Homo sapiens: one gene and its partners. The protein of the gene in region 3 purifies or fractionates together with the protein of the main gene of each other region. This does not show direct contact. Each region holds a gene or a part of one and is shown on either strand. Other genes may lie near its edges.

The links.
Region 1: the proteins of KMT2E (region 3) and CPSF2 purify together in Homo sapiens (affinity purification with mass spectrometry, with the first as the bait; one large-scale study listed by BioGRID). This does not show direct contact.
Region 2: the proteins of KMT2E (region 3) and TBL1X purify together in Homo sapiens (affinity purification with mass spectrometry, with the first as the bait; one large-scale study listed by BioGRID). This does not show direct contact.

What each region holds. Positions count from the first base shown.
Region 1 is NC_000014.9:92,135,469-92,138,968, reverse strand, and holds part of CPSF2 (cleavage and polyadenylation specificity factor subunit 2), read right to left. Parts: coding exon 3,473-3,500; intron 738-3,472; coding exon 622-737; intron 1-621. UniProt on the Homo sapiens protein: Component of the cleavage and polyadenylation specificity factor (CPSF) complex that play a key role in pre-mRNA 3'-end formation, recognizing the AAUAAA signal sequence and interacting with poly(A) polymerase and other factors to bring about cleavage and poly(A) addition.
Region 2 is NC_000023.11:9,688,376-9,692,105, reverse strand, and holds part of TBL1X (F-box-like/WD repeat-containing protein TBL1X), read right to left. Parts: intron 528-3,730; coding exon 395-527; intron 1-394. UniProt on the Homo sapiens protein: F-box-like protein involved in the recruitment of the ubiquitin/19S proteasome complex to nuclear receptor-regulated transcription units. Plays an essential role in transcription activation mediated by nuclear receptors.
Region 3 is NC_000007.14:105,076,582-105,080,311, forward strand, and holds part of KMT2E (inactive histone-lysine N-methyltransferase 2E), read left to right. Parts: intron 1-381; coding exon 382-612; intron 613-721; coding exon 722-852; intron 853-2,264; coding exon 2,265-2,382; intron 2,383-3,730. UniProt on the Homo sapiens protein: Associates with chromatin regions downstream of transcriptional start sites of active genes and thus regulates gene transcription. Chromatin interaction is mediated via the binding to tri-methylated histone H3 at 'Lys-4' (H3K4me3).

The DNA of each region.
Region 1 (3,500 bases), on a different chromosome or scaffold from region 3:
TCTTATACAAAAACTGATGGTCACATAATATTTTTTTCAAAAATACTAAAGTTAACCAATCTCTTATGACCAAGAAAAGTGCTAAACAGAATACAGTCATTCCCACTACCATGCATTTCCACAGCTCCTTGAAAAGGACATTATACATTGGGTACAACATTCACGATTCTGGAGACGGATACAGTAAAAGGCCAAACTTCACCACTGTGCAACGTATGCATTAAGAAACCTATACTTGTGGCCGGGCGTGGTGGCTCATGCCTGTAATCCCAGCACTTTGGGAGGCCAAGGCAGGTGGATCACCTGAGGTCAGAAATTCAAGACCAGCCTGGCCAACATGGAGAAACCCTGTCTCCACTAAAAATACAAAAATTAGCTGGGCGTGGTGGTGCACACCTGTAATCCCAGCTACTCGGGAGGCTGAGGCACAAGAATCACTTGAACCCAGGAGGCGGAAGTTACAGTGAGCCGAGATCGCGCCACTTCACTCCAGCCTGGGTGAAAGAGCGAAAGTCCGTCTCAAAAAAAAAAAGAAACCTGTACTTTTATGTACTTATATTCCCTAAATATACAAAAAGTTACAAAATAATAATAATAATAAGGACGTGAAAGAATACGTACTCAGAAGCTGCTCATCTCTCTGTTTTCTTCTAGGCTGTACATATGTAGCATTGAATGAATCTGTGATAAGTAGGGAAGGCCTGCTTAGCATTTCCAGGGAACATCCATTTAAATGGCTATAAGAAAGTTTAAGAAGAGGAATATTTTATATCATTTCAAGTAAACAATAATAGCTTCTCTTACTTAAAAAATAAGCAGCTTCATTTATAAGGTGTTCCCTCCTCTAACTATAAAAGTAGACATGCTCATTGATAAGAAATCCAGTAACTTCAAAAAAGTATAAAGAAGAAAATAAAAATCTTCCAGAGTACCATTACTCAGAGATAACTGACATAATATTTTGGTGTACATCCTGCTAACCATATAAGTTTTTCTATGCACATATGTATTTTTTTTATTTTTCTTTTTGCCCTGTCTTATGGTAAGTACTGATATACATATGTATTTTACAAAGCTGATATCCCATATACATTCCTATACGCTCAGTTCTATATCCTGGTTTTTACCCAGGACATAAAAATTTTTTTCTAAACTAAATGTTTAACAGTTATAAAAACATTTTATTGTGTCTACACTGTATTTGATCCTTTCCCTTTACTGATATTTCGGTCACTTATTTTTGCCATTATAATCTTCCAAAGAACATTTTTTACAAAAGCTTCAATTGCATTTCTGATTGTTTCTTTAGGTCACATTCCTAAAAATGTATTTACTGTTAATACATAGTACTGCTAAAAGGCTTTCCAGCAAGATTTAACCTCATCCAGAAAAGTTCAATCAAAAAGACTGACCAATTCTACATACTTCCCAGAAGAAAATCACCATTTAAAAATAATTTTGGACTAGTGCAGTGGCTCATGCCTGTAATCCCAACACTTTGGGAGACAGAGGTGGGCAGATCACTGGAGCCCAGTAGTTCAAGACCAGCCTGGGCAGCATGGCAAAACCTCATCTCTACTAAAATTACAAAAATAGCCAGGCATGTTAGAGCGCACCTGTAGTCCTAGCTACTTGGGAGGCTAAAATGGGAAGATTGCTTGAAGCTGGGAGGTCGACACTACAGTGAGCCGTGATTGTGCCTCCAGCCTCGGTGACAGAGTGAGACTCTGTTTCAAAAAAATACATAAAAATATAAATAAGAATAATAATAATTTTAATGGTATCTAACAAAAAAAGATCATTTAAATTTTCTCTTTTGACTTTATAACTTTTGTCCATCTTGCAACTGGTATATTTTTATTAATAAATTAATACTTGATCTTATATATATGTTGTAAGTTTTTGGGCAACTTGCTGCAAATATTTTCCTACTTTGATTTTTTTTTTTATTTGTTGTTTCAGACATTTGAACCTGTATGTCATCAAATCTATCAAACTTTTACTTTGTAACTTGGTTCATTATTTTTATGCTTACAAAGTCTTTTCCAAATCAGAGATCAGACTCACCAATATTGCTTCATTTCTATTTAGTTCTAATCCATCTGAAATTTCTTTTGTTATATAATTAAAAGGACACAAATTGATTTTTTTCCAAAATGGTTGAATCCTTCAATACCATTTACTCAAATAGCCATGCTGCAGTTTGCCACGGTTACTACGAGACTGAACGAAGGAGGACGAATGCAGAAATGAAAACTTAAAACAAAAGTAACTATTTTAAAGGAAGGGGTCAGGAGAAGAAGAAGAGAGCTCCCTGCTTCTAGTGAGCAAAGGGAGCTGCCTTCAGCTTCTACAGCCCTTCATATTTATTGGGTAGAAAGAGCAGGGAGGACGAGGTAACAATTGGTCAGCTGCTTAATTGATCACAGGTTCACATTACTGCTAACAGGCTTCAGATGTGTCTAATCACAAGAAACACCTGCACCTGAGGCCTGACTGCCCTCAGCATTCCTTCTGGGTGGCAGACACAGTTTGTCAGTTTGCCAATTTTCTGCGTTTATGCGAACAGTTTGCTGTTTACTCATATAGCCTCCAGTGGTATACTGAGTTGATCACGACCCTCACTCTTTTGCCCTGCAACATAGCCATCCTTTCCTCATTAATCTATGGTTATAAGTGTCTAAAATTCAGTCTATTTGTCTTAAATATTTCTTAATATAAAGATCCTGAGACTATTGTAATGTAACACAAAATAGCTATGAACTTAATGTACAGATAAAACAAAACGAGCCTGTAAGAGACTAAACACCAAAATATTATATAGTAATGCTCTGAGTGCCACATGAAGTGTGTAAAATCATAACTAGAATTGAGTTCCCTTTCAAAGGGACTAACTTTAAACATACAGGGCAGTTATATTAGATGGTAATTACATTATGTGCAAGGCAACTCCTGTTTCTAAAACTATCAGATCTCGTGAAACCCATTCACTATCACAAGAACAGCACGGGAAAGACCCAACCTCATAATTCAATCATCTCCCACCGGGTCCCACCCACAACATGTGGGAATTATGGGAGCTATAAGATGAGATTTGGGTGGGGACACAGAGCCAAACCATATCACGTTACAAAACAAAAGAACAACCCATCCACAAAGTTGTGTTAAATAGCAGGTCAAGAACATGTAATTTGATACGTAAAAAATTCATCTCCTTTGCAACATCTCCAGGGAGATACCCGTTTTGTAGAGTGTATACTTAACCTATAAATTTTTAAAATCTCTTATGTCTTATACCATACTTTCCCCCTTACTATGCAAATAATTAATTTTGAAAACACTCCCTATTTGACGGTTTTAAGTTGCTCTAAATTTCTGGTAACCAAAACAAAAACTGTGTTTCTTATTTTTTCTCCAAAGAATAAAATAATACCAATTGCATTGCCTTTAGCTTTTCTCTTGATATACCTACATCTCCCTCTTGTGGTTGAAGTCAACTG
Region 2 (3,730 bases), on a different chromosome or scaffold from region 3:
ATAAAAACACAGGAGCCTCTGGTGTTTGGTTCAAATGGGATAAGAAGCTCTCCACAGCTTGCTCTCTGGCCAGAGGGCATCTTCAGCACATGCTCTTCTGTCTTTTTCATCCCTCTGGATCCCTGTTTCCCTCTTTGCCATCTTTGCATTTGGTAATTTAAGTGCTGCTGTGTTCCTCACCACCACATGGAGAAAACGACTTGGAACTATGGCTTCTCCACAATATGAGACATGTAGAGAAGTGGCTCATAGAGCCACCCATTCCTTGGTCTGCCCACACACCGGGGTAAGAAGGGGAGTGTGTGTTCCTTTAGGCAGAACTCCAGAGAAGGGCGAGCAGCTTGCATCTCCCATCTCCCCAACTCTGGAGCGCCCCCCACCCTGACATCCTTACCCGGAGGCTAGCAAATCACTGACAGGATTCCAGGCACAAATGAACACCTCAGACTCATGGCCCCGAAGGACTGTGGCTTTGCTGGATGGAATCTCAACCTCTCCATCTATTTCCATTGGCTTCGCGTGATTATCTGTCACAGCAAACACAAAGAGACAAGTGGCTTACCAATACAAGAGAAACACACTTAAAGGGCTCTTTTGTTTCCAGAAACATTTTTTTTATGTACTAAATACTACCTCTGATGATTCCTTTTCTTTTTTTTTTTTTTTTTTTGAGACGGAATCTTGCTCTGTCGCCCAGGCTGGAGTGCAGTGGCACGACCTCGGCTCACTGCAACCTCCGTCTCCCAGGTTCAAGCAATTCTCATGCCTCAGCCTCTCAAGCAGCTGGGATTACAGGCATGTGCCACCACACCAGGCTAATTTTTGTATTTTTAGTAGAGGCGGGGTTTCACCATGTTGCCAGGGTCGGTCTCAAACTCCTGGCCTCAAGTGATCCACCTGCCCCAGCCTCCCAAAATGCTGGAATTACAGGCGTGAGCCACCACGCCCGGCCTACCTCTGATGATTCTAACGAAATCGTGGCTTTAGTGCAATTTAGTAAATATTTTAGGTTTCTTTACATTTTGACAGTCTCTAAATTTCATTGAGGAATAAAAACAGTTTGCTAAGTGCAGTGGCTCACACCTAAAATCCCAGTGCCTCAGGAGGCTGAGGAGGGAGGACTGCTTGAGACCAGGAGTTCAACAGCAGCCTGGGCAACATAGCAAGACCCCATCTCTATAAAAACAACAACAACAACAACAACAAGAAGTTAGCCAGCCCTGGTGGTGCACACCTGTAGTCCCAGCTACTCAGGAGGCTGCGGTGGGAGGATCACTTGAGCCCAAGAGATTGAGGCTGTAGTGAGCTATGATTGTGCCACTGTACCCCAGCCTGGGTGACAGTTATTTTTTGTAACTGGGGCCAGCTAACTACAGCCCATGATCCAAACCTAGTCCCTGGCTGCTTCTGCATAAATAAAGTGTGACTGGCACACAGCCACTGCCCATGTTTTCAAATTGTCTATGGCTACTGTTATGGGCTAAACTATGTCCCCCTAAAATTCATATCTTGAAGCCCCAATTTCCAGGGGCCTCAGAATGTGGCTGTATTTGGAGATAGGGCTTTTGAAAAGGTGAGCAGGGTAAAAGGAGGTCACAAGGGTGGGCCCTAACCCAGTGGGACTGGTGTCCTTATGAGAAGAGGAGATCAGGACACAGACACAACCAGAGGAACGAGCACGTGAAGACATGGAGAGAAGACAGTCTCTACAAGCCAAGGAGAGAGGCCTCGCAAAGGAACCAGCCCTGCCCACACCTTGATCTTGGTCCTCCAGCCTCCAGAACTGTGAGAGCAAATTCTTAAACAGCCTGGTGTGTGGCCTTTTGTTACGGCAGCCTGAGCTGACTCTCACAGCTGTTTTTGCACTCTGACAGACTTCAGCAGCTGTGACAGAGACTGCATGACCCTCAAAGCCTGGGACATTTACTGTCTGTCCCTGTAAAGAAAGTTTGCTAGACCCTGGTTTATGCTCCTGAGAAAGGAGCAATATAGCCTGATCATCAAACAATTAGCCATGGTTAACAGTTTCACAATACGGTGAGGAATTGAGCATGCTTTGTCATATGTCTTTCGTAAAGGTGCTCTGGTGGAAAACCCAGGAAACAGAAGCAATGTGATCTTAGGTTACGTGTCACTGAGTAGGAGTGCTGTTTATGTAAAAAATAAGAAAACGCCTGGTGGTCCTGCTTAGCTCGAGAAGCCTGATACAAAAGATTCAAACAACAATGGGACTCTTCAATGTTGGTGTTTCTTCCATGCTCTGAAAGTGTCATCTGGCTGGAAGAGAGGAAAAACATCTTTCTGCATGTGGCAGACCCACTGTCCCTGGTGATGGCAAGAGGGAAACTGGCATCTTAGCCAGCCACGCAGTGGCAGGGGGCCTGGTAACTCCAGGCAGGAGTGACAGCCAGTATTTTCATTCTTATCAAAATGCGGCCTTCCAATGCTCCTGTCTCCATAGACTGGGCTGTGGGTCAGGCACAAGATGCAGGGTTTGAGAAGGGGGTTGGGGTGGCTGTTCCAGAAGTTCAACCAGGGTGAACTCTGGCCACATGCACAGAGGAGGAGGGCCAGACTCTTCTTTTCCTGCCCCACAATTGTGGACCTTATCAATAGAAGGCTGGTAAGAGGTCTTTTCCTTTTACCTGAGGCAGGTGGCCTTTCTGTCACCCTATTGCAATAGAAACGTTATTAACAATCTGTGAACCTTCCATTAAATGCTGGATCTGCTTCTCCAAGAATTTTTTAGCTGGTGCCTGTGGATGGTAACTTGTCACAGGGCTTGGCTCGGGCTGCAGCCTCATCAGAGGCAGCCGGCTGGCTCTCTACACACCAGGAAGTTGTGGAGCCAAGACGTACCAGGTAAGACAGCAACGTCATAGTCAGCTCGATCTTCAAGGACTGCTGGGCTGCATGGCTGCTCCGAGGGCAACAACTTTCAAATAAGGAAGAACACACACACATACACTACACCATGCACAGGTGTGCGTGCGTGCGCACACACACGCACACAAACTTGTGCACACACACGCACAGGAACACAGGTGCGCACACGCATATACGCGTGCACGCACACACGCACACACGCACACATACACGCACACGCATGCATACACACTTGCACACAGACACAGGCACATACACATGCAGATATACACATGTACAACATACATATGCACCCATGCATACCTGTGCATGCAAGTGCATGCGCGCACACGGTGCGCCATGCACGGCACATATGCTCGCTCTGAACTTGCACCCTGAAGTGGCGTCCCTACGGGTGTATAGAGCAGTATGTCTAAGTGGAGCAGGTTCTCTGGGTAGAATTTTGGGCTCTCTGACTGGCCACATACTCACAGGCAATCACCTAACAGGGACTGATGTCCTGGGGTTTTGCAAAGACCAAATAAGCCTATGCCCAGTCTCTGGGGCCCAGTGCCCTTGGCAGGAACTGCAAGCTCAATAATTATACCATAATTTGGCCAAAAACCCTCAACATGGAAGGCTGGAGGCTGAGACTAAAGGTGTCCATGAATGAAACACTTTTGTTTATCACGGGCAATAATCATGTGTTACATGAGAGTTCTCAGATTAGCAGGCGCAGCACGATTTCCTAAAGTTGAAGATGAGGGTGAAGAAGCTCAGGTCCAAGGGTTGTGATGGAAAAAATGGAACGGGAAGTTCTTCCGGCCAGATCGTAAGCAAACACTAGAGAGCAGCTTCTAAGACA
Region 3 (3,730 bases):
AGATGCTAAAATTGCTGAGAGAAGCGAGGCTCCTCGCCTCTGTCTGACCCCAAAACATAAGTTTGTCTGGGGTCACAGAGGTCAGCTGTATGCTGTTACTATAGTTTTCTGGCTTAGGTAGAAAAGGATAACAAATTTCTAAAATTGTCACATTAAATAGGATGTGGGGAGCATGTTACAGTGTATCTTTTGTCCCTGTGGTATTTATTATTCCACATTTCTGGAAAAGAAACCGTTAAACAGCAGTTTCTAGTTTATATTATGTTCTTTTGTATAGATTGCCGTTAATTTTGTGTGTGTGTGTGTGTGTGTGTGTGTGTGTGTGTGTGTGTGTGTGTAAGTCCGTAAGTCCAGATACTAAAGCTCAGTTTATGATTTTAGGGTTCAGCTCCAGAGATTGATCCTTCATCTGATGGTTCAAATTTTGGATGGGAGACAAAGATCAAAGCATGGATGGATCGATATGAAGAAGCAAATAACAACCAGTACAGTGAGGGTGTTCAGAGGGAGGCACAAAGAATAGCTCTGAGATTAGGCAATGGAAATGACAAAAAAGAGATGAATAAATCCGATTTGAATACCAACAATTTGCTCTTCAAACCTCCTGTAGAGGTAAATACATCATTTGTCCAAAAATTGTAAAGCAGTTTTATATTGTGAATTTTTAGTTAAACTGAAAACAAGCAAGTTTATTTAATCTCAACATTTACTCTGATTTTAGAGCCATATACAAAAGAATAAGAAAATTCTTAAATCTGCAAAAGATTTGCCTCCTGATGCACTTATCATTGAATACAGAGGGAAGTTTATGCTGAGAGAACAGTTTGAAGCAAATGGGTATTTCTTTAAAAGGTATATTCATTTATTTTCCCATGTTCATTTTCTGTAGGTAAATATTGAACTTTTGGCTGTTTTACCTAGATGTTGTGATTATATGTACTTTTTTTCCTACATGATCATTTCAGTATTTAAAGCTGTAGTGTGGTTGAACAGTGACTGATGATAATTTTTGAACTACGATAAACTAAAACAACATAAAAAAATGCAAAGATATATTCCGGTCTCTTGCTCATGTCTGTCTTGCTGAAAATCCTAAAACAATCTACTTCAAAGATTAACCAACAGCAATATAGGTTGGATATAGAAGGATATCAGTCAGGAATTCTGATTGATTGAGATTACAAGGAACCCTTTCCATCTGGGACTCATGATAATTCCTCATAACGTAATAGCCGGAATGGAGAAAGACCATGGTAACCATAGGAGAAACCCCTTCCTCTTTATTAGACAGTGTTAGATTGGGTCCTACATTATTGCCACCACTTTCAACACCCACTTTGTTGGTATTGGAATGGTATTGGAGGTCTCTTCTTTGGTTTGAGATTTGTATGCAGAATTAATATGACCCTTTGATAGGCGTTGCTTCCCTGTAGTCTAGAAGTATGTTCATATCTGTAGGAGAACATTCCTAGTCTGTGTCCTACAATTATCAAAAACATTTATTGTTTATAACTTGAATATTTACTTAAGATATGAAAGATACACAGCAATTTCTCCCTATTATGTAGCAGATTTGATCTGAAACGGTATAAGACAGATACTTTTAAATGCACCAGGAAATGTGAACTCTAAAGACATCAAATTAATCTTGTGAATGCAGTAGTCACTCTCTTTTTATCTTTCTTTGTAAATTGGAATTTCTACCTTCCATTAATTGCCTTTGATTTAGGTGAGGTTATGGGGCAGGTAAAAATCTCATTAGCATAAACTAGCATAAGATAAGAGTGAATTGTGGAGTCAGACTGCCTATATTCAAATCTTGGCTTCACTATGTCTTTTAGAAGTTTCTTAGACTCTGTGTTCTTAAGTTTCTTCATCACTTTGCCTCTGAAGAGTAACAGATTATTGTCCTAAAATGTTGACTTTTGTTTGTTTGTTTGTTTTTGAGACAGTCTCGCTCTATCAGTGAGGCATGATCATGGCTCACTGCAGCCTTGATGTCCTGGGCTCAGGTGATCCTCCCACCTCAGCTTCCCAGGTAGCTGGGACTACAGGCACATGCTACCATGCCTGGCCTTTTTTTTTTTTTTTTTTTTTTTTTTTTTTTGTAAATACGGAGTGTCGCCATGTTGCCCAGGTTGGTCTTGATCTCCTGGACTCAAGCAATCCACCTGCCTCGGCCTCCCAAAGTGCTGGAATTACAGGTGTGAACCAGCATGCCCGGCCTAAAATGTTAATAGCTTATAATGTTTCTTTCTTTGTAGACCATACCCTTTTGTGTTATTCTACTCTAAATTTCATGGGCTAGAAATGTGTGTTGATGCAAGGACTTTTGGGAATGAGGCTCGATTCATCAGGCGGTCTTGTACACCCAATGCAGAGGTAAGCTTATAGAAATTTTTTGGGGAGATGTGGGTGCTGGGGGTGTGTTGGAATCTGAGCAATAAGCACAAAACTCAGGTCACTGACCTAAGACACTTTCCACCTGTTGGTGCATTTTATACTGCCCAGCCTGTTTTTTTGTGAAAATTTATGTGATAACTGGCTATGAAGTCTTTTTTTTTTTTTTTTGAGACGGAGTTTCACTCTTGTTGCCCAGGCTGGAATACAATGGCACGATCTCAGCTCATGTAACCTCCGTCTTCCGGGCTCAAGTGATTCTCATGCCTCAGCCTCCCGAATAGGTGGGATTACAGGCACGCACCACCATGCCCGGCTATTTTTTTGCATTTTTAGTAGGGACGGGGTTTCACCATTTTGACCAGGCTGGTCTCGAACTCCGGACCTCAGGTGATTTGCCCATCTCAGCCTCCCAAAATGCTGGGATTACGAGTGTAAGCCACCATGCCTGGCCGCTATGAAGTCTTAAAAATTACTTTGCACCTTGAAGAAATGATGATGCTCCTTATAAGAGGAAATATTGGACTTCCTTTTTTTTTTTTTTTTTTTTTTTTTTTTTTGAGGCAGTGTCTCACTGTCTCCCAGGCTGGAGTGTGGTGTCATGAGCACAGCTCACTACAGCCTCCGTGACCTCTCATGCTCAAGTGATCCTCCTGTCTCAGCTTTCTGAGTAGGTGGGACTGCAGGCGTGTGCAACCATGCCCAGCTAATTTTTTAAATTTTTGCAGAGATGGAGTCTCATTTTGCTGCCCAGGCTGGTCTCCAACTCCTGGGCCAAGTGATCCTTCTGCCTTAGCCTCCCAAAGGGCTGGGATTACAGGCATGAGCCTGCCCGGACTTTTTAAATCATTATTATTATTATTATTATTATTATTTTTGAGGCAGGGTCTTGCCTAGGCTGGAGTGCAGAGGTGCAATCATGGCTCACTGGAGCCTCAACTTCCTGGGCCTTTAGGAGGTAAAGTTATCTTCTCACCTCAGACTTCTGAGTAGCTGGGACCACAGGTGCGTGCCACCATGCCCAACTAATGATTCTTTAATTTTTTGTAGAGTTGGGTTCTCCCTATGTTGTCCAGACTGGTCTGGAGCTCCTGTGTTCAAGCAATCCTCCTGCCTCGGCCTCCCTAAATGCTAGGATTACAGGCATGAGCCACCAGGTCCAGCCTAATACTGGACGACTTTCCTTCTATCTTGGAAGCTCTATTTATGGCTCAATACATGCGATGATTTAAGTTAGATGACAAAGCTAAAATCTAAAGTAGATTTTGTATGTTCTACTGTAAAATTTTTAATAATGTTATATTTTAGTGTGGAGTAGAAAATCGTGTTG